7 linked regions of the Homo sapiens genome follow. The protein of the gene in region 7 purifies or fractionates together with the protein of the main gene of each other region. This does not show direct contact. Each region holds a gene or a part of one and is shown on either strand. Other genes may lie near its edges.

Region 1 (3,500 bases), on a different chromosome or scaffold from region 7:
CATTTGAGTGTGTGGCTTTAGGTCTGTATTATGTAATCTTTTCAACTGTACTGTGAAGCACTGATTGCAATTCCATGATGAGGAACAGTGTCTTGCTCTGTCGCCCAGGCTGAAGTGCAGTGTTGTGATCTCAGCTCACTGCAACCTCCACTTCTTGGTTCAAGCAATTCTCCTGTATCAGCCTCCCGAGTACCTGGGACTATAGGTGCGTGCTGCCATGCTCGGCTTAATTTTTTTGTATTTTTAGTGGAAAAAAAAATACAGCCTGTTGGCCAGGCTGGTCTTGAACTCCTAATCTCAAGTGATCTTCCCGCCTTGGCCTCCCAAAGTGTTGGGATTACTGGTGTGAGCCACTGTGCCTGGATTTTATATAATTTAGCTGAAACCACATAGCTTGTTATGGTGGAAAAGATGAGAATTTAACTTGGGTCTGTGTAACTCTGGTGTCCATTTTCATGCACTATTCTACATTGCTTCTCAAACTGGGGAACCCAGTGTTCATCCCAGTCAAGAGAGGGAGAACACAAGAGAGAAGAGACTTTGGGAACATGAAGGAGGCTTCTCAGACCTTGGGCAGAGGGAACATTGGCGGCCCCCCCCCTTTTTTTTTTTTTTTTAAGCAAGAATTAAAGGAACAATTGGGAGTGGGATGGGGTAGGGTGGAGTGAAGGAGTAACAAAGCAAGGTGAGTGATGACCTGAAATAGGAGGGAAAACTCAGATTGCTTCTTATTCTTTTGGGTCTTTGTGGGCTCCCCCTACCCGCTTCTAGATTTCTACTGAAGAGGGATCCACCAAAAGAAAAAAGAGCCAGAAGGGGCCAGCAAAAACAAAAAAGTTGAAAATCGAAAAGAGAGAAAGCAGCAAGTCCGCAAGAGAGAAGTTTGAAATCCTTAGTGTTGAGGTTTGTTAAAGTTGGTTTTCATTTAAACAATCGACCTTGGTTGCTTAAGTTTGTGTATGTTCTTTTTTTCTTCTTTCCTTCTTTTTTCCCTTAATTCCATTTTCCCCTTAATATATTATATTTCATGCGTGTGTGTGTAGAGATGCTTGGAATTTATGCTAAGGAGTAAGCATGATTTCCTTCCATTGCTAACCGATGCCAGGAATCTTTTCTTTTTCTTTGTATTTATTTATTATTTTCCAGAGACAGGCCTGACTCTGTTGCTCAGGCTGGAATGCAGGCATGATCATAGCTCACTTTAGTCTTGAACTCCTGGGCTCAAGCAATCTTCCTGCCTCAGCTTCTCCTGAGAAATTGGGACTACTAAAGGTGTGTGTCACCATGCCCAGCTAATTTTTAAATCTTTTGTAGGGCTTGGATCTTGCTATTTTGCCCAGGTTGGTCTCGAACTCCTGTGCTCAAGCAATCCTCCTGCCTCAACCTCCCGAAGTGTTGGGATTATAGACATGAGCTACCCACCGTGCCTGCCCCCTTTTTTTCCTTTAAAGCTGTCGTGGGCTTGTTTGTGTCCTCACAGGACTTGAGTTCTGATATATTCAGAGGTTAGAATGGACAGTAACTTTAGCAGTCATTCTCATCTTACCCATTCATTTCATAGATGTGAAACCCATTTCCAAGAATTGAAGTGGTCTGTGTTCCTTACATTTTTATTTTTTATTTTTTAATTTTGAAATTATTTTATTTTATTTATTTATTTATTTTGAGACGGAATCTCTCTCTGTTGCGCAGTCTGGAGTGCAGTGATGTGATCTCAGCTCACTGCAACCTCTGCCTCCCGGGTTCAAGCGATTCTCCTGCCTCAGCCTCCTGAGTAGCTGGGATTACAGGTGTCTCACCACGCCTGGCTAATTTTTGTATTTTTAATAGAGACGGGGTTTCACCATGTTGGTCAGGCTGGTCTGGAACTCCTGACCTCGTGATCTGCCTGCCTTGGCCTCCCAAAGTGCTGGAATCACAGGCGTGAGCCACCGCGGCCAGCCTGCCTTACATTTTTAGATGATAACACCAATATGTGTTAGTTATAAAAAAGAAAAGAAGTTAAATAACTTTGAAGAGGAACATTCATATTTGGCTAGATTCAGAGTCAATATTTTGTCCTATATGATACTTTAAAAAAATTGTTAGACTTGGTGCCAACATTAGAAAACTAAAATTTTTTTTTTTTTTGAGACGGAGTCTCGCACAGTCGCCCAGGCTGGAGTGCCGTGGTGCCATCTCTGCTCTGCTCACTGCAAGCTCCGCCTCCCGGGTTCTCGCCATTCTCCTGCCTCAGCCTCCTGAGTAGCTGGGACTACAGGCGCCCGCCACCACGCCCAGCTAAGTTTTTGTATTTTTGGTAGAGACGGGGCTTTACCATGTTAGCCAGGATGGTCTCAATATCCTGACCTTGTAATCTGCCCGCCTCCGCCTCCCAAAGTGCTGGGATTACAGGCGTGAGCCACTGCACCTGGCTGAAAACTAAAAATTTTTTTACATGAAAATATGATTTCTGGCTTCTTGTAAAAATTTGAAAGTACTGATAGCAGAAGGCCCGTATTCCCTCATGTTTGTAATGACAAGGAGCTGAGTAGTGGTTGTGTCCTTTAGACCTGGCATGGTCACTCCAGACTGCCATTGTCTCCACTAGCTGGCTTCCTTCATTGTGTTGTCTGCCAGGCATTTGAGTTTGGGTTGCTCAGAATAATGTAAAAGGCAAAGGTGTCCTCCAGTATCCCAGTGCTGTTAACACTGTTGTATAATCTAGACCTTTTACAGTGCTCGGTCAGATATTTGAGAAGTTCACTGATATGTACACATGTGTATTTCTTTTCATTTATAAAATTCCTGTAGGTTTTTATTTTTTATTTATTTTTATTTTTTTATTTTCGAGACAGAGTTTCACTCTTGTTGCCCAGGCTGGAGTGCAGTGGCATGATCTCAGTTCATTGCAACCTCCACCTCCCAGGTTCAGGTGATTCTCCTGCCTCAGCCTCCTGAGTAGCTGGAATTACAGGCACCTGCCACCATGCCCGGCTAATTTTTGTATTTTTAGTAGAGACGGGGTTTTGCCGTGTTGGCCAGGCTGCTCTCGAACTCCTGACCTCAGGTGATCCACCCGCCTCAGCCTCCCAAAGTGCTGGGACTACAGGCATGAGCCACTGTACCCGGCCTATTTTTTATCTTTATTTTTTGAGATAGGGTGTCACTTTGTTGCCAAGGCTGGAGTGCAGTGGTGTGATCACAGCTCACTGCAGACTCAACCTCCTGGCTCAAGCGATCCACTCACCTCCGAGTACCTGCGACTACAGGCGTGTACCACTATGCCTGGCTAATCTTTTTTTTTGGAGAAACTACGTTGCCCAGGCTGGTCTGAAACTCCTGAGCCCAGGCAGTCCTCCTGCCTTGGCCACCCAAAGTATTGGAATTATAGGGCGTAAGCCACTGTGCTTGGCCTTATAGCTTTTAAATTGACACTAGAAGCCAGACCTTCCAACCTTCCCTATTGTTGTTCCCATCCTTATTGTACACATTTCACTTTTTCTCTTCTAGTCCCTGTG
Region 2 (3,500 bases), on a different chromosome or scaffold from region 7:
CCATGCCCAGCTAAGTTTTGTATTTTTAGTAGAGATGCGGTTTCACCATGTTGGCCAGGATGGTCTCGATCTCTTGACCTTGTGATCTGCCCACCTCAGCCTCCCAAAGTGCTGGGATTACAGGCATGAGCCACCGTGCCTGGCCTCAGCTAACTTTTAAAAATTAATTTTTTGTAGAGATAAGGTCTCACTATATTGTCCAGGCTGCTCTCGAACTCCTGGCCTGAAGCAATCCTCCTGTCTCAGCCTCCCACAGTGCTGAGATTATAGACATGAGCCACCAGCCCAGCCTGACTACCACAAATACCAATGATGAATTTGAAGGAATCTTTGTGAATAGTGCATTTGACCTGTATTTTCAAGGTTTTCTTGTTGAACTTTGCACTTATAAGTGCCTCCAGAGATGAAAGCCACTACATGACTAGAATCCCATATATGTTTGCCCTTGTCTACTGAACACAATTTGGAATGACTCATATAGCTTAGAAAAAAATGGCAGACTAGAGGGAAATTGAAAATTCAAAAATTCTGGATGTTTAGAAAACCAGTGACAAGCCACAGGCCTTCTTGACATGTTTCTCCAATTCTATTTACTCTCATTGGGTTTTTTTATACCAATCAAAAGGATGAAATGCCCCATTGAAACAAAACATTATGCTAGATTTCTGCTTCTCATTCTACAAAAGTCTTTATTTTTCTGCATTGAACTTTGAAGTAACATTTCATTTCCTCCAGAAAAAGAGTAGGATTACTTCATCCGTAGTCTTTTTTTAAAAATCTGGTACTTCTAGAAAATACATTGAAATTAAAGTTTTAATGCATTGAAAGAAAGCCAATCAGTCATTAATCCATACAGTAATTTTGTAACAGTTGTGCATAAATAATTGGCAAAAGAGATTTTAAAAAGGAGTTTATTTTTAAAGTAATGTACAGAACCAAATTTGATTTCAAAAATAAAAGCCAACATTAATGTTTTCTAGCTTTTAACAGAAAGCAGTTTACTAGCATTTTGGAATTTCATCTGGTCAATTAAATATACAAAACAAATTAACCAAAACATACATTATGTATGTAGAGAAAATATTAAAGTATATAATAAGGAAATGTGCTCAATACGAACTCTTTAAAAATTGAAAACACAAAGTAATTTTGAGATTCATGACAGCCTTAGGGTTCATATTACTTGACTGTGATAAATTTAGAAGATTATACATAGTTTGGCTGGTTGTTCCTGCATGCTGACGGTATTTCTTCCGTCTTTAACCCTTGCAAAGAAGATTTAAATTTTGCTATTTTTGAACTTGTTTACCAACTTGGTCATTCTTGATACTTGTTATTGCCCAAATTTTACTTGTAATTCCTTTTAGAAGCATAAATAGTGGATTTCAATCATGTCAATATTTCTGCAGTATTTAGAATGGCATGAATTAGAAAACATGAATTTTTCAAAGAAATCATAACTTTTTCTTGAGTCCAGCCATTTGCTATCATCAATAAGATTAGTTAGGATACTGGATTTCATCAGTGATTCCATTATCTGAAAAAAAAAAAAAAATCTGCCACCTTTAAAGTTTTGATTTTTGTTTTAATTATCTGTTCTGCTTCTGTTTTATGACATGTAGTTCAGGCATTGGACTAAATTTAAATCAGTGGAATGGTTGGCAGCCTATAAATTGGTCTACACAAAAAGGTTTAAATGAGTTGGGAGATTTGTTTACATTTTGCTAGCTTTTTATTTCTTTCATTTTTTTTATTTGAAATCTCCTCCTTAGTGGAATTACATGATGATAACCTTAGGTTAGGTTATCTTACAGTGAATGTTCACCCAAAATCTCAGTGCATCCTACATTAGAACTTTGGTATGGTGTGACTGGTTACTGATTCAGCAAGCAACAAATATAACTAAAGTCACTTAATTACTTCATTTTTAATTCAAATCACATGGATGTTGATCTAGAAAGGATCTGATTCAAATTGTCAAATTAGTATGAAATCACATACCACTCTATGTTGTACTTATATCTGACTATGCAAATGTGTTTACCAATTTTCAATTTTTCTTTCTTGGGGTGAAAATTCTAAGCTTTGCTATGTTTAAGCATCTATTCATGAAGCTACAGATAAAGCTGAGACCTGCACAAGTAGTTTAAATATCTTTTCAGACCATTTGGGTGTTTCAGACCCTTGGAGGTCTTGGACATAGAGGGGAACAAAGCAGACAAGGACTCTGTCCTTATACAGTCTGAGTCACACTCAAAGGTCATGTTGTAGAATTGCATTAAGGAAATCTGTGATCAGAAATAACAGGGACATATTTAGATACACGCAAAACTAGCTAAATTTCTGGAAAGATCTATACCTATAAAGTGCTTGGCACAGTACATGGTACTCCATAACAGTTACATGTTAATATCATTATGATTTTTATTACTTTTCCAGTTCATCCAAATAATTCTCTGGTCATGGGCAGAACACAGCACATGTAAACATGTATAAGTAAAATGGAATTTGGTTCTTTTAACATCAGTGCAGACCAGTTTTGTGCTACAACCTTAAGAGAGCCCAAATTTGTCCCCTGATGCGGAGACTAGGAGTCATTTCTTTTATTTTTATATCCAAATTTTCATTGTTTTAATTGGCACCCTATCAAACTGATAGATGCCTCCAGTTGGGTATGTCAGCGTGGTTGCCGAGAACATTACAAATCCAGTAATTACAAGGAACTGTTTCTCCATTATTTTCTTCCCAAAGCATTTTCTATGCTGGAAATGCTGTGAAAACTTTAGACACAATAATAAAAGTACTATTTTTAAAAACAAGCTTTTATTGTATTAACATGAAAGCAATATATGTTCATCATAGAAAAGACAGGTAAGCAAAACAAAGGCAATGAAAATCACCCAAATTCAATACAGAGAGAGAACTACCATTATAGTTTATGCATATTGCCTTCCAGTTCTTTCTCTGTGCATAGAAATAGCCTTTTCAATGGTGTCATAGTATAACATCCTATTTTGTAATTGCCTTTTTCAATTAACATTATATTATAAATGTTTTGCCACATCATTACTCTTTTACAGTATTGCTTACATTGGTTATACCATACTTATTTAACCAGTCCCCAATTGTAGGGCATTTAAGATTTTTTTACTTTTCTTTTTTCTTTTTTTCTATTCTAAAGAATTCATTGAATGAACAACTAAGTTGCCATTGTTGAGGGTATTCTTATGTTAAAACAGCCAAATTATTTAAAATATGGAGAAAGTGATTTGGTGTCAAAGCAAGGTAACCAACAAGATGAAACGATTGCATGTGAAGTCTTCATAAGCATACATGGTTTCCTTTTTGGGAGTCACAGAGGTCACAGACACAAGCAGCAACTTTTAGGAAACACTGGAAAAGTTGAACCCTGTATTATTATTGAAGACCAATAACCCAAAAATGGACTGTGATTAATTAGAATAAATTGAAATCAAATACAGACCGACTTATCAGGGGAC
Region 3 (3,500 bases), on a different chromosome or scaffold from region 7:
CGGGCGTGGTGGCTCACGCCTGTATTCCCAACACTTTTGGAGGCCGAGACAGGTGGATCATTTGAGGTCAGGAGTTTGAGACCAGCCCAGCCAACATGGTGAAACCCCATCTCTACTAAAAATACAAAAATTAGCCGGGTGATAGTGGCGCAGGCCTGTAATCCCAGCTACTCGGGAGGCTGAGGCAAGAGAATCGCTTGAGCCTGGGAGGCAGAGGTTGCAGTGCGCCAAGATTGTACCACTGCATTCCAGTCTGGGCAACAGAGTGAGACCCTGTCTCAAAAAAAACAAAAAAACAAAAAAAACAGTGGCCTTGAAATCTTTATCCAGGTAAAAAGCAATCGTAATAATAACGAAAAATGTTCTAATTTGAAAGTCAGGCACAAGTGCAGTTTGAAACCTGATTGTTACTAAATGAATTTAGTCTATCCTAAAAGCTATTTCTCATGTCTACCTGTGTTATCAGAAGAAACAACAGCATTCTAGCATCCTGATATCATTCTAGCATTGGGATGAAACGTTGCCATCCTAGGAGAAGACATGGGTTCTTATGGATAAACGACTTAGCCTTCAGCCAGCTTTAGCAGTGTTTGGGAGCAGTGTACAGACATGCACCATTTCCCACCTTCCTCTGTGAAATGCTGCAGTATTATATGGTGCTTTGAAAACATGCCCTGCTGGAGTGCTTTGGGAAAAAATAGCCTGTTTCAAAGTTTCATTTATTATAGTCATGTAAAACAACTGATTGCCTCTATCATTTATTTTAAGAAACTTTCCTAACAAAATAGCCCTCCGTCTGCCTCTGTAGTGAACTCTGTGGACAAGGACATTAAATGACTGTGCATTAAAAGTTACATCCTTTCTCACCGCCTGCCTGTTTGTGTTTCAGGCATCCTGACAAAAACAAAGATCCTGGAGCAGAAGACAAGTTCATTCAAATCAGTAAGGCTTACGAGGTATCGTGTCCAGCTTTGTGATGCATCCATTAGCTCTTACAAAATATGCCTTAGGAGGTGATGAGTTTTGTAAAGTTGTCAGAAAGGTCATGTTCCCCATGCCCTTGATGCAGTTTCTAGATTATAATAGAGAGAACAGGCTGGATGCGGTGGCTCATGCCTGTAATCCCAGCACTTTGGGAGGCCGAGGTGGGTGGATCACGAGGTCAGGAGTTCGAGACCAGCCTGACCAACATGCTGAAACCCTGTCTTTACTAAAAATACAAAAAAAATTCGCCGGGCGTGGTGGCACGTGCCTGTAATCCCAGCTACTCAGGAGGCTTAGGCAGGAGAATTGCTTGAACCCGGGAGTGGGAGGTTGCAGTGAGCAGAGATCGAGGCCTGGGTAACAGAGGGAGACCGTCTCAAAAAATAAAATAAAATAAAAAATAATAGAACATATTTGGCCACATCCAGTATATTGGAACAAGTGCCTGAACACTTCAGCTCTTGGAAAAACTGGCCTATTTTAAAGGCTTTAACTAGAATTGTAGAATTACCCTGAGTATGTCTGTATGTGTCACTATTGCCTTCTTAGAAATATGCATTAAAGAATCACATACCAAATCGCCTATATTTATTAAAGTGGCACGAGGTAACAAATACATTTAAACACAAGATTTTCAGTAATTTTCCAGTATGTCAGCTCAAGTAGATTGGTCTGGAATATGCATCAAAGAGAATTCAGTGGCTTTCTGATTTGTATAGGGAATGCCCTTCAGCAGACAGTGCTTAGCTCATAGAATAACACGTCATCATTCTAAAACAGATTCCTGAATTTTAGACTTCAAAGTTATTTTGTAAAACAAAGTAAATTAACAGACAAGGCACTAGACTATAGCTATTTGGTGTTCATAGCTTTTCTTATCTTGGTTTGAATTGGTCCAACTCACCAGGTATGACCAGGTCAATTTTCTTGTCATTGAGCCCTGGTGATCAACATTATGTTATTTTATTTGTTTTGCTGAAGTGTTTAATGTTGTGGTAGTTTGAAATCTTTAATGCCAAGATGAGCATGAGTACCTAAACTGAAATATTTTAGTCTTGAATGTTCTTTAATGTTTCTCTAGTGAAAGAAGAGTTTCTCATTCTTTTGAATGACTGCATTTAGAATATCTAATCGGCTGGACCCAGTGGCTGCTCACGCCCTGTAATCCCAGCACTTGGGGAGGCTGAGGCATGCAGATCGCTTAAGCTGAGGAATTCAGGACCAGCCTAGACAACATGGTGAAAAATACAAAAATTAGCCAGGCATGGTGGCATGTGCTGATGGTCCTAGCTACTCAGGAGGCTGAGATGGAAGGTTGACCCTGAGAGATGGAGGCTGCAGTGAGCTGTGATCACGCCACTTCACTCCAGCCTGGGTGACAGAGTGAGACTCTATCTCGAAAAGAAAAAGAATATCTAATTATGTCATAATCTTTTTTCTTTTTTCTTAAGAGACAGTCTGTCTCTGTCACCCAGGCTGGAGTACAGTGATGCGATCACAGCTCACTGCAGCCTTCAACTACTGGGCTCAAGCAATCTCCCACTCACCTCACCCTCCCAAGTAGCTAGGACTATAGGCACGCACCACCATGCCTGGCCGATTTTTTTTTTTCTTTTTGTAGCAAAGTCATGCTATGTGGTCCAGGCTGGTCTTGAACTCCTGGCTTCAAGGGATCCTCCAAACCTTGGCCTCACATAATCGTGTCATAATTTTTACATTTCTTTTCTTTTCTTTTCTTTTCTTTTTTTTTTTTTTTTTTGAGACGGAGTTTCGCTCTTGTTGCCTAGGCTGGAGTGCAGTGGCACCATCTCGGCTCACCTCAACCTCCGCCTCCTGGGTTCAAGCAATTCTCCTACCTCAGCCTCCCGAGTAGCTGGGATTACAGGCATGCGCCACCACTCCCGGCTGATTTGATTTTTTGTATTTTTAGTAGAGACGGGGTTTCTCCATGTTGGTCAGGCTGATCTCAAACTCCCGACCTCAAGTGATCCACCCGCCTCAGCCTCCCAAAGTGCTGGGATTACAGGTGTGAGCCACCACGACTGGCTGCATTTATTTTCTTCCTATGTCTTTCAAGCTGCTTACAAAAAAGTCTTTTGGATGAACCTTTTGTTGTTGTTTAGATTTTTTTCTTCCTTTATAGATTCTTTCAAATGAAGAAAAGAGATCAAATTATGATCAATATGGAGACGCTGGAGAGAACCAGGGCTACCAGAAGCAGCAACAGCAGCGAGAGTATCGCTTCCGCCATTTCCATGAAAATTTTTATTTTGATGAATCCTTTTTTCACTTCCCTTTTAATTCTGAACGGCGGGACTCAATTGACGAAAAGTATTTATTGCACTTTTCACATTATGTGAATGAAGTGGTTCCAGATAGCTTCAAGAAACCCTACCTCATCAAGATCACCTCCGATTGGTGCTTTAGCTGCATTCATATCGAGCCTGTGTGGAAAGAAGTCATTCAAGAACTGGAAGAATTGGGTAAGATAATTTTATTCACTGAAAGATATTTAT
Region 4 (3,500 bases), on a different chromosome or scaffold from region 7:
TTATTTTCCCGTTGGTAGACCTATCATTCCATTTTCTGTGTTGTTTCTGGGATATATGTCTCTACTTATTAAAAGGTGACTTATTCAGACTTATTCAGAAGAGCATACATTAAACTATAAGGCCAGTGAAGGCAGGGGTTTTGTCCATTACTCTATCCTTATCTCCTAGGGAGGTCATAGTCCATAGGAGGCACTAAGTAAATCTTTGTTGAGTGAATTTAAGCTGTGTGTTCAGCAATGGTGAACAGCTATGTTGAATCACAGACTCCAGTGTCTCTTGTAACTGGTAATACAGAATTGTGAACAAAGTTATGAGAATTATAGGTAAAACTGGTGACCTTGGAGTACTTTCCTAGATGGAGCAGAATACGGGTTTTAGAGTTGTTTAAGCACTCTATTTGAATCATTTGGAACATGTAACATATAATGCTATAACTTAGCATTATTCAATTGCTAAAATTGTTAGTCTTAGTTGAAGTAATTTCTATCTCCATAGATGTAGTAAAATTGGGAACTCAACCAAGACTGAGGTTAATAACTTGTTTCGGTATTGCCTGGGCAAATTTTTGATTTACTACTTTTGAATAATGTCTTATATCTCTATTATATGATTATTAGAGTGAATGGCATAAAAGTGGTATTTTTGTTGCAAAATCTATTTTCTCTTGGTTTAGGTTCAGAGCACTGGTGAAGGAGAAGCACAGAGATATTTTGATCATGCACTTACTCTGAGAAACACAATACTGTTTCTGCGTCATAACAAAGATCTAGTTGCGCAAACTGCACAGCCAGACCAACCCAATTATGGTATGATAAATATATTTAATTTTGAAGACATGATCATATGAAACTTTTTTCTAAGAAATTAAACAGATCATGCTCACTTATATAATCATCACTTACGTATTTTGTGTAGATAGCATATTGAATTTATAACTAGAGGCCTGTTTTGTGAATTTCTTGCTTGTTAACTGTTTCTTAACCTTATTTTACTTTTCTCATGTGCCACTAACATTTGTAGTATTTAAATCTGTTCAATACCTGCAAAAGTGTTGGTGTTAATTTATTTAAGTAGCTGGATGGAATTTAGAACAGGCATCAGCTCTGAGGGGTGAACAAGGGCAAAATTTTAGTTAATGTAGGAAGCATAAAATTTCAAGAATGAAAGATTCCATCATAATGAAAAGAATAAAGAGGAGCCTTCTGTTCAAATGCTACTGCAATACTTACCAAAAGATTTTACTTTTAAAAAGGAAATAGATAATTCTTTTTAAAGAGTAAAAGAAGTAGCAGCAATTTTAAGGTATTGATGAACTTTAATGGAGCTGTTGCCCTACTGGGCACTCTCAGTTTTGTGATAGTTGGGGGTTCCCAAACTTTAGTTGAATTGATGGTGTCAGAATTTCTACCCAGATGGGGATTTGGATTCAGTAGGTTTTGAGGTGTGGCATGGCACTCAGGAATGTGTGTTTTTTAAAAGATGATTCCAGTGCTCAGCTAGGCTTGGGCACCCCTGCATGAGCACTTGGCTCAAGTTCTTAGACATTCACAAGAGTTGTGTCTTGGGGCTTCATGGGTCCTCAATACCACTATAACGTTTAATTTTGATTAGTTTCATTTACCTAAAAACTATTTTTTCTGGCCAAGAACATCAGTTTCTTAATCATCTCCATTTTCATTTATTCTCTCACTAGCATCTGGCTTTCTTTTCAGCTCAATTTTAAAAATTGAGGGAGGATTCAGCTGTTACTTAACAAGCTGTCACATAGGTGAGAACAAACATGCTGGGTAGTTTACTTGAGTGAGGCTAGACTCACTTGGTATCAAGTGATTCACTTCTGCAGCCTTAATATGCCTTATCTGAAGAATTACAGATTGTTACATACTGGGGCTTTTGAGATCATTCATAAATAGTTAAAACTGAGAATATTAAATTGCCAAATGCCGAGAGTCCTAAGCACTTACTGGTAGGCATTTGTTGATGGATAACCATTTTTGGTTAATAAATACTAAATCATGTGATAAAGCAGTGGTGAGTGGCACAGTCTTGAGGATGTCTTTGGATATAAAACTCCTGGAATTTCTGGGACTTTTTAGTGATTTATGGAGATAATGTATTAGATGATTTGAAATACTCTGTTAAAGCTGTCTTGAAATACATTGTCCTTTCCTGCCTATCACAGAATGTGAGAACATTAGAGAGTACTAGTGACCAGTGAAGTGTAACTCCTATTATAGATAAAGAAATTGGAGTTTATATTAGCTAAATCTTCTGCTTGTTTTTTAGTCATCAAAGCCCATATTATTAGTAAATGGAAGAGCCAGGAATGGAAGACTTGAATCTGTGTCTGTTGATTTTTTTTTTTCCATTGCCCTGTCCCTATATTATCTTCTCTTGAACGCTAAGCTTTGTATTCATTTACCCATAAACATTTGTTGCTTAGTAGTCTGGGCTGGGCTAAATTTTTTCCCCATGAATAGTCAGTGTACCATGAAGTAAGTTAAATGGTAAATCTAAACCTATTCTCTATGAAAATAGTCCTGTGCAATCCTAACCTTTAAGGTGGGTTTAATGTTAGACTGTTCCTGACCCTAGTTGGAGATTTAATTGCTTAGAATAATTGCTGGGTCTCCAAAGTTAAATTTGATGAATGCCTCCCCTTAAGACCAAACCTGCAATTACTTATGAAATTTCATTTTTGCTACCAGCATTTCTTAGCTTAGCTCCTCATCTGAATTGCAGAACATGGAAATGATTGGCGTGACTATTTCTCAGTTTTTCTAATGATGGTGCACATTAGTACCGTTCTCAATGCATGAAAAAGGTCATTCGTTCTATGTAGAGGATATCTTAGGGCATTAAGGCTTCATGCTCAGCCTGTTGAGAAATGTTGCTTTCTGCAGTTACTGGGCTTGGTAACTGAACCTTACTCTTTTTTAGAAAAGAAATTCTCTGCCGGGTGTGGTGGCTCATGCCTGTATTCCCAGCACTTTGGGAGCTCGAGGCAGGCGGTTCACTTGAGGTCAGGAGTTCAACACCAGCATGGCCAACATGGTGAAAACTCGTGTTTACTAAAGATATAAAAATTAGCCAAGTGTGGTGGCAGGCACCTGTAATCTTAGCTGCTCGGGAGGCTGAGGCAGGAGAATTGCTTGAACCTGGGAGGCTGAGGTTGCAGTGAGCTGAAATGACACCACTGCACTCCAGCCTGGGTGACAGACTGAGACTCCGTCTCAGAAGAAAAAAAAGAAATCCTCTAGTATTGGTGTTTTAAGCGTCTTGTTTGAGGAAAAAGAATTTTCTTTTTATGTCACTAATAATTTATACTTTGAGTATATCATGTAGTACTTGTTATCTACTATAAAGCAAAAGCATTGTGATATTATACAAGCAAACTCTGTTATACATGGAACTAGTGTCTTAGTCCTAGGAGTCCTTAATCCCTTGGTTTTAAATAGCACGGCGTACTGTTTATAAATAAAAGTCATGCGTGGTCTGT
Region 5 (3,500 bases), on a different chromosome or scaffold from region 7:
AGTGTTTTCTCTGGGGCTTCCTTTTGTCCAGTTCCTTCAGTCGCCTGCCCTGGGCTGTGCTGTGGGCCTCTGTGGTGGGGATACTGGCAGCTGCACTGCACATTGCTTCGTGCCTGCGAGTGTGTGACAGCAGACACCTGCGGGGTCGGGAGCACCCAGGCCCACTGGGTCTTTGAGAGGCGGGCGCCCTTCAGCAGGTCTCTTCATGTCCAATGCAGGAGACCAGAGGGTCTGCAGCAACAGCAGAGCAGGCTTAAATCCCTCATGGCAGAGCGGCCTGAGGTGCCGCGGCCTGGAGCTCACCCTGAAGCCACTCGTTTCTTTACCTGTCCTGTGGGTCTTTCCGTAGCTGGTTACCCCAAGGATCATAGGCTGGCTCCTCAGTGGCCCTGCTCCCATCCATTCTGAAGGCCCTTGGCTTAGATGTTCCTCCTGTTCAGGCTTTGCCAGCCCTCTGCGGTCCTCCCCCCCGCGACCCGCAGCAGTCCTGTCCATAGCACGGGGCGCCCCGAGCGCTTAGCGGCACAATGCTAAAGCAAAGGTGACATGTCTGTTGCGCGCAGGTCCTGCTACCTACCCGGGATGACTTTGCTATTAAACAGCAGTCATAGTTTCAGGCAGTGACCTCTTGCCAAAAATCCCACACGCCCTTTTGAGAGGCTTCTGAGCAGCGCACGCCGGTCGCCATCTTCGTGGGACAGTCTCGGGACTGGCATCAGGGGTAGGGGTTACAGTTCAGATGCTTCTCCAACCTTTTTTCAGCGTCCGTCCCTGGCCTCATGCTGGGATGATGGCCGCGTGGCTCTCCGAGGAGCTCCTCTGCTGGCCCCGGGGGACGGACGGGAGGACCAATTGGTCTCTTCCCAAATTTTTTTCTAGGATTGCTTCCCACGCAGCCCTGGGAAAGCCCTAGATTGACGGTTTTTGTGAGTGGAAGATAGAGGTCGGGCCAGCAAGGACTGTCAGACCTGCTGAGGCCCTAGTTCAGACGGGGCCGCCAGGACGCTCGTCACAGTCCACCTAGAGGTGGGATAGAGGGCGGCGGAGCAGCTGCTTCACTTCCTGAGGCCTTCAGCTGCCGCCTCTTCATCCGGGGAGAATTGGCTTCTCCTGTGATATTGGGAGAAGACCCCATCGCAGGGCATGAGATTGGACAAGCAGAATGGGGAGGACAGAGGGAGCAGGGGGCTGTGGTGCACATGGGGTGGGCAGGCTGTGTCCCTAGCCCATCCTGGCCGCCTCAGGCCATGTGGGGAGTTTGGTGACTACTCCGGGCTCTCACTCCAGGCCCGTGTCCACCAGGAGTCTCTGACAGTGCCTTGGGGCATCCTGGACCCTGCCGCGTGGTGCAGGCAGTGGCAGGGCACAGGGTGCGGTGGCCAAGCTGCAGCCCCCCGACCAGGCCCTGGAGCTCAGCTCCTTTGCAGGCCACTCAGAGCGTCTCGAAGGGACTTGTCTGTTACAGGAGAGAAGGAGGACGAGGACGAGGATGTGAAGAAGAGAAGGGAAAAGCAAAGGAGAAGAGACAGGACGCGGGACCGTGCAGCCGACAGGTGAGGCGCGGGCACACGACCCCACAGGAGGAGGTGGACTCGTGCGGTGGAGGCGCTGCCGAGCTCACCTGTCCTCGCTCCACAATGCTGGGGGCCTGGTGGCCTGACTCCTCTGGCCAAACCAGTGGGAGGCAAAACAGTAAACAATTGGGAGTGCAGAAAAGACCATCACTCGTGCTCCCAGCACACGAGCTACCTGTCTTCTAGGATGGCTGGGACGTTGCTTTGGTGGTTAGGTTTCTGTTCTTGCTTTAGAGGATTGGTGTTTGACTCCTGTGTCTCTATTCCTCTGGAATCCCAGCCTTGCTGGTGGGTCTGTGTGGTCCATAACTGCTCAGCAGCGGGCTCTGTTACTCTCCTGCAGGCCTGAGGGGCATCCCTGCCCCCTAGCCTGGTGTCTGGCATCTCAGACACTGTCCTGTGTTCACCTTATCCAAATCCAGACCACCCCTGGAGTTTGACACAGCTAGGAGACAGGTAGAGAGATGATCCTACCATCAAGATTTTGTCCCACAATAGAAAAGGATTGCAAAAATGTTGAGCCCAAAGGATGTCATTGTGAGCACACCATGTGCCTGCCTCTCCCTGCCAGGAGTTAAGTGGCTTCTGACTAGAAACTGAAATCACCAGTGATCATGTGATGCTGGGGAATCCTTGACCTTAAGGTTCACATGGGACAGTGATTTTCTTTTTGTTTGTTTGTTTCTGAGATGGAGTCTTGCTCTGTCGCCCAGGCTGGAGTGCAATAGCATAATCTCGGCTCACTATAACCTCTGCCTCCTAGGTTCAAGCGGTTCTCCTGCCTCAGCCTCCCGAGTAGCTGGGATTACAGGCGCCTGACACCACGCCTGGCTAATTTTTGTATTTTTAGTAGAGGTCGGGATTCACCGTGTTGGCAAGGCTGGTCTTAAACTCCTGATCTTGTGATCTGCCCGCCTTGGCCTCCCAAAGTGCTGGTATTACAAGCGTGAGCCACTGCGCCCAGTCTGGGCAGTGATTGTCGTGTTCAAAGAAATGCTTAGTAAAAGGGGCCAGATGCCGTGGCTCACACATGTAATTCCAGCACTTTGGAAGGCTGAGCTGGCGGATCGCTTGAGGCCGGGAGTTCAAGACCAGCCTGGTCAATATGGTGAAACCCATCTCTACTAAAATTACAAAAATTAGCCAGGCATGGTGGCAGGTGCCTGTAATCTCAGCTACTCGGGAGGCTGAGGCAGGAGAATCACTTAAACTGGGGAGGTGGACTTTGTAGTGAGCCAAGGTTGCACCACTGCACTCCAGCCTGGGCGACAGAGCAAGACTCTGTCTCAAAAAGAAAAAGAAACGGGCTGGGGGCAGTGGCTCACGCCTGTAATCCCACCACTTTGGGAGGCCAAGGCAGGCGGATCACCTGAGGTTGGGAGTTCGAGACCAGCCTGACCAACATGGAGAAACCCAGTCTCTACTAAAAATACAAAATTCGTCCGGCATGGTGGCGCATGCCTGTATTCCCCGCTGCTCGGGAGGCTGAGGCAGGAGAATTGCTTGAACCCAGGAGGTGGAGGTTGCAGTGAGCCAAGATCACACCACTGCATTCCAGCCTGGGCAACAAGAGCGAAACTCTATCTCAAATAAAAACTCCATCTCAGTGAGCCGAGATTGTGCTACTGCACTCCAGCGTGGGCGACGGAGCAAGACTCCATCTCAGGAACAAAAAAAAAAAAAGAAAATCACTGTTCCATGTGAACCTTAAATCAAGGATTCAAAAAAAAAAGAGAGAAATGCTTAGCAAAACGAAGCCAGGAACCAAACGCAGAACTGTTTCTTCTTAAGTGGTACAGGAACATTGAAACCCTTGTTATTTTAAACAGATAAATGGATAGAGTAGATGACTTTTCATGTCACATGGAAACTGAGATGACATTTTCTTTTTAATTATTTTTAAACTTAAATAATCTAATAAAGAGA
Region 6 (3,500 bases), on a different chromosome or scaffold from region 7:
ACTTCCTGATTTCAAAACATACTTCAAAGCATCTAATTTAGATGGCATACTTAATTACTGGCATAAAGATAGAGATACAAATCAATGGAGCAGAATAGAGAGCCCAGAAATAAATCATTGCATATATGGCCAAATGATTTGCCACAAGGGCGCCAATACTACACAATGGGAAGGGACAATCAATATCTTCAACTAACAGTGTTGGGAAAGCAATATCCACATGCAAAAGAATGAAGTTGAACCCCTACCTTACACCATATACAAAAATTAACACAAAAATAAAGACCAAAACATAAGACCTTAAACTATTAAACTTGTAAAAGATAACATAGGAGAAATCTTTTTTTTGGAGATGGAGTCTCCCTCTCTTGCCCAGGCTGGAGTGCAGTGGCACGATCTCAGCTCACTGCAAGCTCCGCCTCCCAGGTTCATGCCATTATCCTGCCTCAGCCTCCCGAGTAGCTGGGACTGCAGGCACCTGCCACCACGCCCGGCTAATCTTTTTGTATTTTTAGTAGAGACAGGGTTTCACTGTGTTAGCCAGGATGGTCTCGATCTGACCTCATGATCTGCCCACCTCGGCCTCCCAAAGTGCTGGGATTACAGGCGTGAGCCACTGTGCCCGGCCAGGACAAATCTTTAGGACATTGGATTAGGCAATGATTTCTTGTGTGCAACACCAAAATCATAGGCAACAAAATAAAAAATAGACAAAGAGGACTACATCAAAGTTAAAAACTTATGTACATCAAAGGAATCAATCAGCAGTGTGAAAAGGCAGCCTACAGAATGGGAGAAAATAATTGCAAATTGTACATCTGATAAGAAGTTAATGTCCAGAATATATAAGGAACTCCTACATCTCAACAACAATAAACAACCCAATTAAAAAAATTGACAAAGTTTCTTGTATACTGAAGAAAGTATACTGAAGAAAGTATACAGCCAATAAGCACATGGAAAGATTCTCAGTCATTAGTGAAATGCAAATCAAGACCACAATGAGATAGCACCTGACACCATCAGGATGGCCACTATGAAAGAACAAAAAGTTTAAATTAGAGCACAGTAAACAATGGGCGTCAATTTTTTTTAAAAAAAAAAGGAACAAAAACTAACAGGTGTTAAGGATGTGACATTGGAACCCTTGCATACTGTTAGTGAGAATGTAAATTGATGCAGCCATTATGGAAAACAAAGGGGTCCTCAAAAGATTAAAAATAAAATTATGATCCAGTGATACTGCCTCTGGGTGTATAGCCAAAATAATTTAAAACCGGATCTCAAAGAGATATTTTCACACCCACGTTCTTTGCAACATTATCCAAAATAGCCAAGAGGTAGAAGCAGCCCACGTGTCCATTGACAGATGAATGGCTAAAGAAAATGTGGTGTATACATACAGTGGAATATTATTCTACCTTTAAAAAGAAAGAATTTCTGTCACATGCTACAACATGAATAAACCTCAAGGACATTATGCTAAGTGAAACAAGCCAATCACAAAAGGACAAATAGTGTGTGATTCTGTTAATACTCGTATGAAGTATCTAAAGTAGTCAAAATCATAGAAACAGAAAGTAGAAAGGCAGTTATCAAGGTCTGGGTAGAGGGGAAGGGGGGCAATTAGTGTTTAGGGAGTATAGCATTTCAGTGTTGCAAGATGGAAAAGTTCTAGACATACACTTAGCATTGCTGAACTGTACACTTAAAAATGGTTAAGATGGAAAATTCAATGTTTTTTTACCACAGATTTTAAAAAGCAATGTTTCATTGCCTAATTTTATATTTGGTTAACAATTTTACTGATTGTTCTATGTCCCAGGCACTTTCAATTATTATTCTTTCAGTGACCCAGTAAATTAGGAACTTGTTCCCCATTTTAGAAATTAGGAAATAGACACTGAAAGGTTTAGAAACTTATTTCTGTTAGACCTTACATGTGGTATAGCAAAACTGTGTTTACCTAACTGAATGAGTTGTCCAATACTTGCATATACACAGTGTTTCCAAAATAAAAGAATGGGTCCCTAGAAAGCAAGGCAAGAGAATTGAGACTAAAATAATGAATATTTGAGGATAAATTTGGCAAGTTTGCTACTTGGAATATCACTTTTTTGGGCATGTCTAGTTCCAAAACCACTGAGTGTATTGCACCTGTTGGATTTGTTGAAAATGCAGATGGTACAATCAAATGTAAAGGGAAAGGAATATAGTTTGAAAGTTTTTATGAAGACATGTGCTGCCTAATCTGCGAATTGAAAGCATCTTTTAAAAACTTACTTCTCGTCATATTCCTAGGTGGTAGTGAATATGTGGGTAGAAAAATGAGAATGTTTCAGATAATGCTAATGAAGTTAAATGATTGCAGTCTACCATATTGTGAGGAAAAGTTGTTAGCCATGAAAGATGAGGACAGAATTAAAATATTACCATGACTGGCATTTGATTTGAAAACTACAAAGATAAGCTTAGGTTCCTATTTATGAAAACCATTCTCACAGCCCAGTGAAATATCTTTTAAAAGGTTCGTAGTTACCATGGATACTTGTTAGCTTTGATAGAGTATCCATATTCAGTCATCTGAGGTGAAGAAGCCAAAAAACCCATCAACTAATGTCACAAATAGCTTCATCTGTAAATTTGTACTAGTTTGGGGATGGAAAGGCTAAGTTTCCTGAAGATTAGATTGTTGGTTAATTGTCACTGCTTGGAAAGCAAAATATTTAGGATGTACATTGCCTGAATTTGATCCTAGTATTCACTATTGATATGTAACTTTTTCATTTAACTAGTACACGGCATTTCTTAGATTTTAACATAGGAATTTAGATGGTTAGACCTTTCTGAAAGTTGATGAAACCTAGGCAGTATACTCAATTTCTGAAAGCCGTAGAGACACAGACAATATTGAAGGTATTGGTCCCCATGGTAACATATTTGCATTTGGCCCAGCATGGCTGGTTTCTGCCTAGCTTCTTTTAATTGCTATATATTGACAGCCATTTTCACAATTATTTATAAAATGTCGGATAAGTGAGCATGTGTACAAGGGAGTGCACACCATACCTTAAGCTTGATTAGATACTTCAGATGACAAAGAGCTCTCTGCATGAAGAGTTACTGAGGTATTTTTATCATTTCCTAATGTGCCTGTCACATAGTAGAAGCAAAAAGCCTTTCAAGTTATTTAAATATTTTCCTCAATTCTCTTTCAAAACAGGTGACAAAAGAGCTGAAACAGTATGACAACAAAATTATAGAATGCAAATTTGAGAACAACAGCTGGGTCTTCATGAGACAGAGAACAGACAAAAGTTTTCCTAATGCCTACAACACTGCCATGGGTGAGTATGACAACTTACCAGTGCTTATTATATTTAAAACAAAAATTAAGGTGTTAGACCCAAAGTGTGCTGCCTTTGTTGTTTTGCTTAATGGGGCATAGTCATTTGGACTTCATCCTTGTTTGATGGGAAAGATACGTCAAGTCTGTATTC
Region 7 (4,071 bases):
GGGCCTCGTGCTATTTATTTGTGCCAACATCTTTTTAAATTGGTTTTTTTCTATTCCTCTTTAGATTCTTTTTCCTTTTAAAAATTATTGGCATGGATGCTTTTTCTCCCCTCCAGATTATATAAACATTAAACACACACACGTACACACACACACACGTTTTCAGTAGCGATTACTGTGTTGACACCACTTCCACTCTGTCTCCCCAGATCAGCGCTTCTGACGAGCCCATTTGCACGGGGACTCGGCCCTCTCTTTTCCTGGCGAGGCTTTTGAACCTGTCGCCAAGCCAGTACCTCAGAGAGAAGGAAATGCAGAGGGACGAGAAGGATGCATGGCGCCTGCCCCCAGTTAGATGTTCTTCAGATAATCTGCAACCAAGTGCGCTGATAAAATATTTAATAAAGAGCCGGTAAACATCACTGCAAATACATTAAGGCATTTCAGCCCGACAGCTTATGATTATTTCAAAACTTAAAAAGGAGATCATAGATTGTCACTGTTTCTGTACTCAACCAAGAAACCGAACCTTCCTGAGGTGGGTGGATTGGTGGGTGAGTTGCTGCTTTTCGCCCCCTCTCCTCCCCCCTTCTGCTTGTCGCTGTGGCTCTCAGCAGCAGGGATTTATTTATTTATGTTTGCAGTTTAAAAGGTGGGGGTGGGGGCGCCGAGGACATGTAGGATCTGCTCACAAAGCACCAGCTCAGGTGTTGTGTGCTTTTGTATTAGCTGGAAAAGACAGACTCTGGAACTTTTACAGGGCGAGAAGAGGCCACCGGCTCGCGCTTTGTATACTTTGCACTTGAAATCGTTACATTCAACTGAATATTTGGCTCATTCAGATCCGAAAAGTCTCCTAGCATCGTCGAATTCCCTCCTCCGCCCCTCCGCTCTAAAGGGGGGAAGGGGGGGAAGGTAGGAAATGTTTAGTAAATTCCACATCTTTGAATCTTCCTAAAGCAGTGGTCACAGAGCTTAAAGGTGACACAACAGTGCTCACGTAAACCAACACACATTCCCCACCCCCCAAGCCAACAATAAAATCATCCCCTTCAATTTGCCATGATCGTCGCTACCAGGAGCCAGGTGATTATCCTAATTAATGTCTATCTAATTAAATTACTGTCAGCAGCTAACCAATGGCAGGAGCCGTTTCATCGGCTGCACAAGCAGCAAGATCAAAAGTGAGCCTTTTCTGATTGCTGCATAGTGTCAATTGGCCAATCTCTTCTCCCAGGGAAAAAAAAAAGTAAATCAAACCTTTGAGAAGCATTTGCTGGTTGAAGTGCTTTCTGTCTAGTGAGGGGGTCTGTGGATTTCTAGTTTATGATAAATAGGACTTTAAAAACCAGGGACGGGAGGGCGAGTGTTCAGGTTCTAGAGCTATGCAGCTGGAGCACTGCCTTTCTCCTTCTATCATGCTCTCCAAGAAATTTCTCAATGTGAGCAGCAGCTACCCACATTCAGGCGGATCCGAGCTTGTCTTGCACGATCATCCCATTATCTCGACCACTGACAACCTGGAGAGAAGTTCACCTTTGAAAAAAATTACCAGGGGGATGACGAATCAGTCAGATACAGACAATTTTCCTGACTCCAAGGACTCACCAGGGGACGTCCAGAGAAGTAAACTCTCTCCTGTCTTGGACGGGGTCTCTGAGCTTCGTCACAGTTTCGATGGCTCTGCTGCAGATCGCTACCTCCTCTCTCAGTCCAGCCAGCCACAGTCTGCGGCCACTGCTCCCAGTGCCATGTTCCCGTACCCCGGCCAGCACGGACCGGCGCACCCCGCCTTCTCCATCGGCAGCCCTAGCCGCTACATGGCCCACCACCCGGTCATCACCAACGGAGCCTACAACAGCCTCCTGTCCAACTCCTCGCCGCAGGGATACCCCACGGCCGGCTACCCCTACCCACAGCAGTACGGCCACTCCTACCAAGGAGCTCCGTTCTACCAGTTCTCCTCCACCCAGCCGGGGCTGGTGCCCGGCAAAGCACAGGTGTACCTGTGCAACAGGCCCCTTTGGCTGAAATTTCACCGGCACCAAACGGAGATGATCATCACCAAACAGGGAAGGTAATACTACATTTTTGGCTGCCGCTGCTCTAGGCGCAGCCGGGGACAAGTGCACCTAGGCTGTGACTGCCGCGGCAGCGACGATTTGGGGTCGGGAGCGGAGTGGAAGGCGCCCTAGAGTTGGCTAGTTTTGGAAAGGGGGAAAGTGGAAGGGATAACCGCCAGGGTGATGTTGGTGGGGGGGACCCCGTTCTAGGAACATAGTGGGAGAGCCAGTCAGTGGCCAGAGGAAGGCAAGAAAAAGGAAGAGCCCTGGCCAGCGGCTGGGCGATGGGAGGGACGCATCAACACTGGCATGCACGGACAGGTGGAGACGCAGGTCGCCAACCTCGCTCTCCACCTGGGCAGTGATAACTGCCACCTTCCCACTCCAGCTCACCCGCCGCTCTCCCTGATTTGGGTTGCACTTCTTTTCTTCTCCCACCACCCTTTTTCTAATCCAGCAAATATTCGCCTATTTGCTGCAAGTACAAGTTTTGCTTTGCTAACTGGCGCCCCGCTTCTTGCATTTAATCTTTAACATTTATGTTTCTTTTTTCCTTGTTTTCTCCCCCCACCCCTTAATTTAAATAGGCGCATGTTTCCTTTTTTAAGTTTTAACATTTCTGGTCTCGATCCCACGGCTCATTACAATATTTTTGTGGATGTGATTTTGGCGGATCCCAATCACTGGAGGTTTCAAGGAGGCAAATGGGTTCCTTGCGGCAAAGCGGACACCAATGTGCAAGGCAAGTCCTTCCAATTAACACATTTTCTTGACACTTATTTAGGTGAGAATGATTAATTAAAGCCTTTGTGGACTGGCTCGAGCGACTTTTAAAACGATCGGCCAATGACTTCTAAAAGGAAACGAGGGGGACAGGGGGACAGACTGAGCTGCGAGAAGGGGGAGGATTATGCAAAAGCTATTTTAATCACCCCCAGTTAATAGGAAGAAAGAATGGCCTAAAAAAGCCCCAGTTAATGGGCTTCATGGTGGAGTAAGGTGTGTGTATGTGTGTGTGTGTGTGTGTGTGTGTGTGTGTGTGTCCTACGTGGTGAGGAGCTGGGACTGGGCAGTGCCAGGGGCATATGTAAACAATGTATTTCTTTCTCTAGGAAATCGGGTCTATATGCATCCGGATTCCCCCAACACTGGGGCTCACTGGATGCGCCAAGAAATCTCTTTTGGAAAATTAAAACTTACGAACAACAAAGGAGCTTCAAATAACAATGGGCAGGTCAGTGGCTCAAGCGCTCGTGTTTTCTCTCTCTCTCACCCCTTCCTCCCTGACATCCAGTTCGTCAGTGTAAAGCAGCATATGGAACTGGATACACGTTTCTTTGCTTCATTAAAAAGACTTAAAAATTGTATTTCCACCCTCCAAATTTATATTAAATCTGTAAAGTTGTTCTCATTGGCAACACCTCCGTCGGCCCAATTTTGGAGTGCCCGACCTTCCCAAGTACTAATACTGATTGATTTTGAGAAGAAACCCCACAAGATCTGCAGGTTGTGGAAATCTTTGTTCCTCCTTACAGGAGGACTAGGAGAAGGGCCCTGAGGATCGGGCGGTCGGCTTCCCCCTTTTTTCCGGTGCCCCGGCTTATCTTCGCTCCCAGAGGTGCGAAAGCCGGTCTGCCCCAGCCAGCCAGCCGCCAGCCAGGCGAGTCCCGCGGTCAGTTAGCCTGGAAGGCGGGCTGCAGGCTGCCTCCGCCGGCCCGGGCGCGCAGCCGGGCGCACACAGCCACGCGCACAGCGACCGCGTTAACACGCCACCCGGCGCTCCCCTTTCTTCCCGCCGGACAGATGGTGGTTTTACAGTCCTTGCACAAGTACCAGCCCCGCCTGCATGTGGTGGAAGTGAACGAGGACGGCACGGAGGACACTAGCCAGCCCGGCCGCGTGCAGACGTTCACTTTCCCTGAGACTCAGTTCATCGCCGTCACCGCCTACCAGAACACGGATGTAAGGAGACCTAGGGGCTGGGGGCGAGGCGGGCGGCACAGACATC

Evidence for each region.
Region 1: the proteins of TBR1 (region 7) and PDCD11 purify together in Homo sapiens (affinity purification with mass spectrometry, with the first as the bait; one large-scale study listed by BioGRID). This does not show direct contact.
Region 2: the proteins of TBR1 (region 7) and NFIA purify together in Homo sapiens (co-immunoprecipitation; one large-scale study listed by IntAct). This does not show direct contact.
Region 3: the proteins of TBR1 (region 7) and DNAJC16 purify together in Homo sapiens (affinity purification with mass spectrometry, with the first as the bait; one large-scale study listed by BioGRID). This does not show direct contact.
Region 4: the proteins of TBR1 (region 7) and FAM91A1 purify together in Homo sapiens (affinity purification with mass spectrometry, with the first as the bait; one large-scale study listed by BioGRID). This does not show direct contact.
Region 5: the proteins of TBR1 (region 7) and AKAP8 purify together in Homo sapiens (affinity purification with mass spectrometry, with the first as the bait; one large-scale study listed by BioGRID). This does not show direct contact.
Region 6: the proteins of TBR1 (region 7) and RNGTT purify together in Homo sapiens (affinity purification with mass spectrometry, with the first as the bait; one large-scale study listed by BioGRID). This does not show direct contact.

Annotation. Positions count from the first base shown.
Region 1 is NC_000010.11:103,399,626-103,403,125, forward strand, and holds part of PDCD11 (protein RRP5 homolog), read left to right. Parts: intron 1-162; exon of another isoform or gene 163-205; intron 206-771; coding exon 772-903; intron 904-3,492; coding exon 3,493-3,500. UniProt on the Homo sapiens protein: Essential for the generation of mature 18S rRNA, specifically necessary for cleavages at sites A0, 1 and 2 of the 47S precursor. Directly interacts with U3 snoRNA. Involved in the biogenesis of rRNA.
Region 2 is NC_000001.11:61,379,561-61,383,060, forward strand, and holds part of NFIA (nuclear factor 1 A-type), read left to right. Parts: intron 1-3,500.
Region 3 is NC_000001.11:15,533,348-15,536,847, forward strand, and holds part of DNAJC16 (dnaJ homolog subfamily C member 16 isoform 1 precursor), read left to right. Parts: intron 1-889; coding exon 890-956; intron 957-3,127; coding exon 3,128-3,467; intron 3,468-3,500. UniProt on the Homo sapiens protein: Plays an important role in regulating the size of autophagosomes during the formation process.
Region 4 is NC_000008.11:123,788,939-123,792,438, forward strand, and holds part of FAM91A1 (protein FAM91A1), read left to right. Parts: intron 1-674; coding exon 675-807; intron 808-3,500. UniProt on the Homo sapiens protein: As component of the WDR11 complex acts together with TBC1D23 to facilitate the golgin-mediated capture of vesicles generated using AP-1.
Region 5 is NC_000019.10:15,366,288-15,369,787, reverse strand, and holds part of AKAP8 (A-kinase anchor protein 8), read left to right. Parts: intron 1-1,465; coding exon 1,466-1,553; intron 1,554-3,500. UniProt on the Homo sapiens protein: Anchoring protein that mediates the subcellular compartmentation of cAMP-dependent protein kinase (PKA type II).
Region 6 is NC_000006.12:88,614,119-88,617,618, reverse strand, and holds part of RNGTT (mRNA-capping enzyme), read left to right. Parts: intron 1-3,223; coding exon 3,224-3,347; intron 3,348-3,500.
Region 7 is NC_000002.12:161,415,026-161,419,096, forward strand, and holds the start of TBR1 (T-box brain protein 1), read left to right. Parts: upstream 1-1,271; 5' UTR 1,272-1,385; coding exon 1,386-2,077; intron 2,078-2,650; coding exon 2,651-2,805; intron 2,806-3,175; coding exon 3,176-3,297; intron 3,298-3,866; coding exon 3,867-4,025; intron 4,026-4,071. UniProt on the Homo sapiens protein: Transcriptional repressor involved in multiple aspects of cortical development, including neuronal migration, laminar and areal identity, and axonal projection.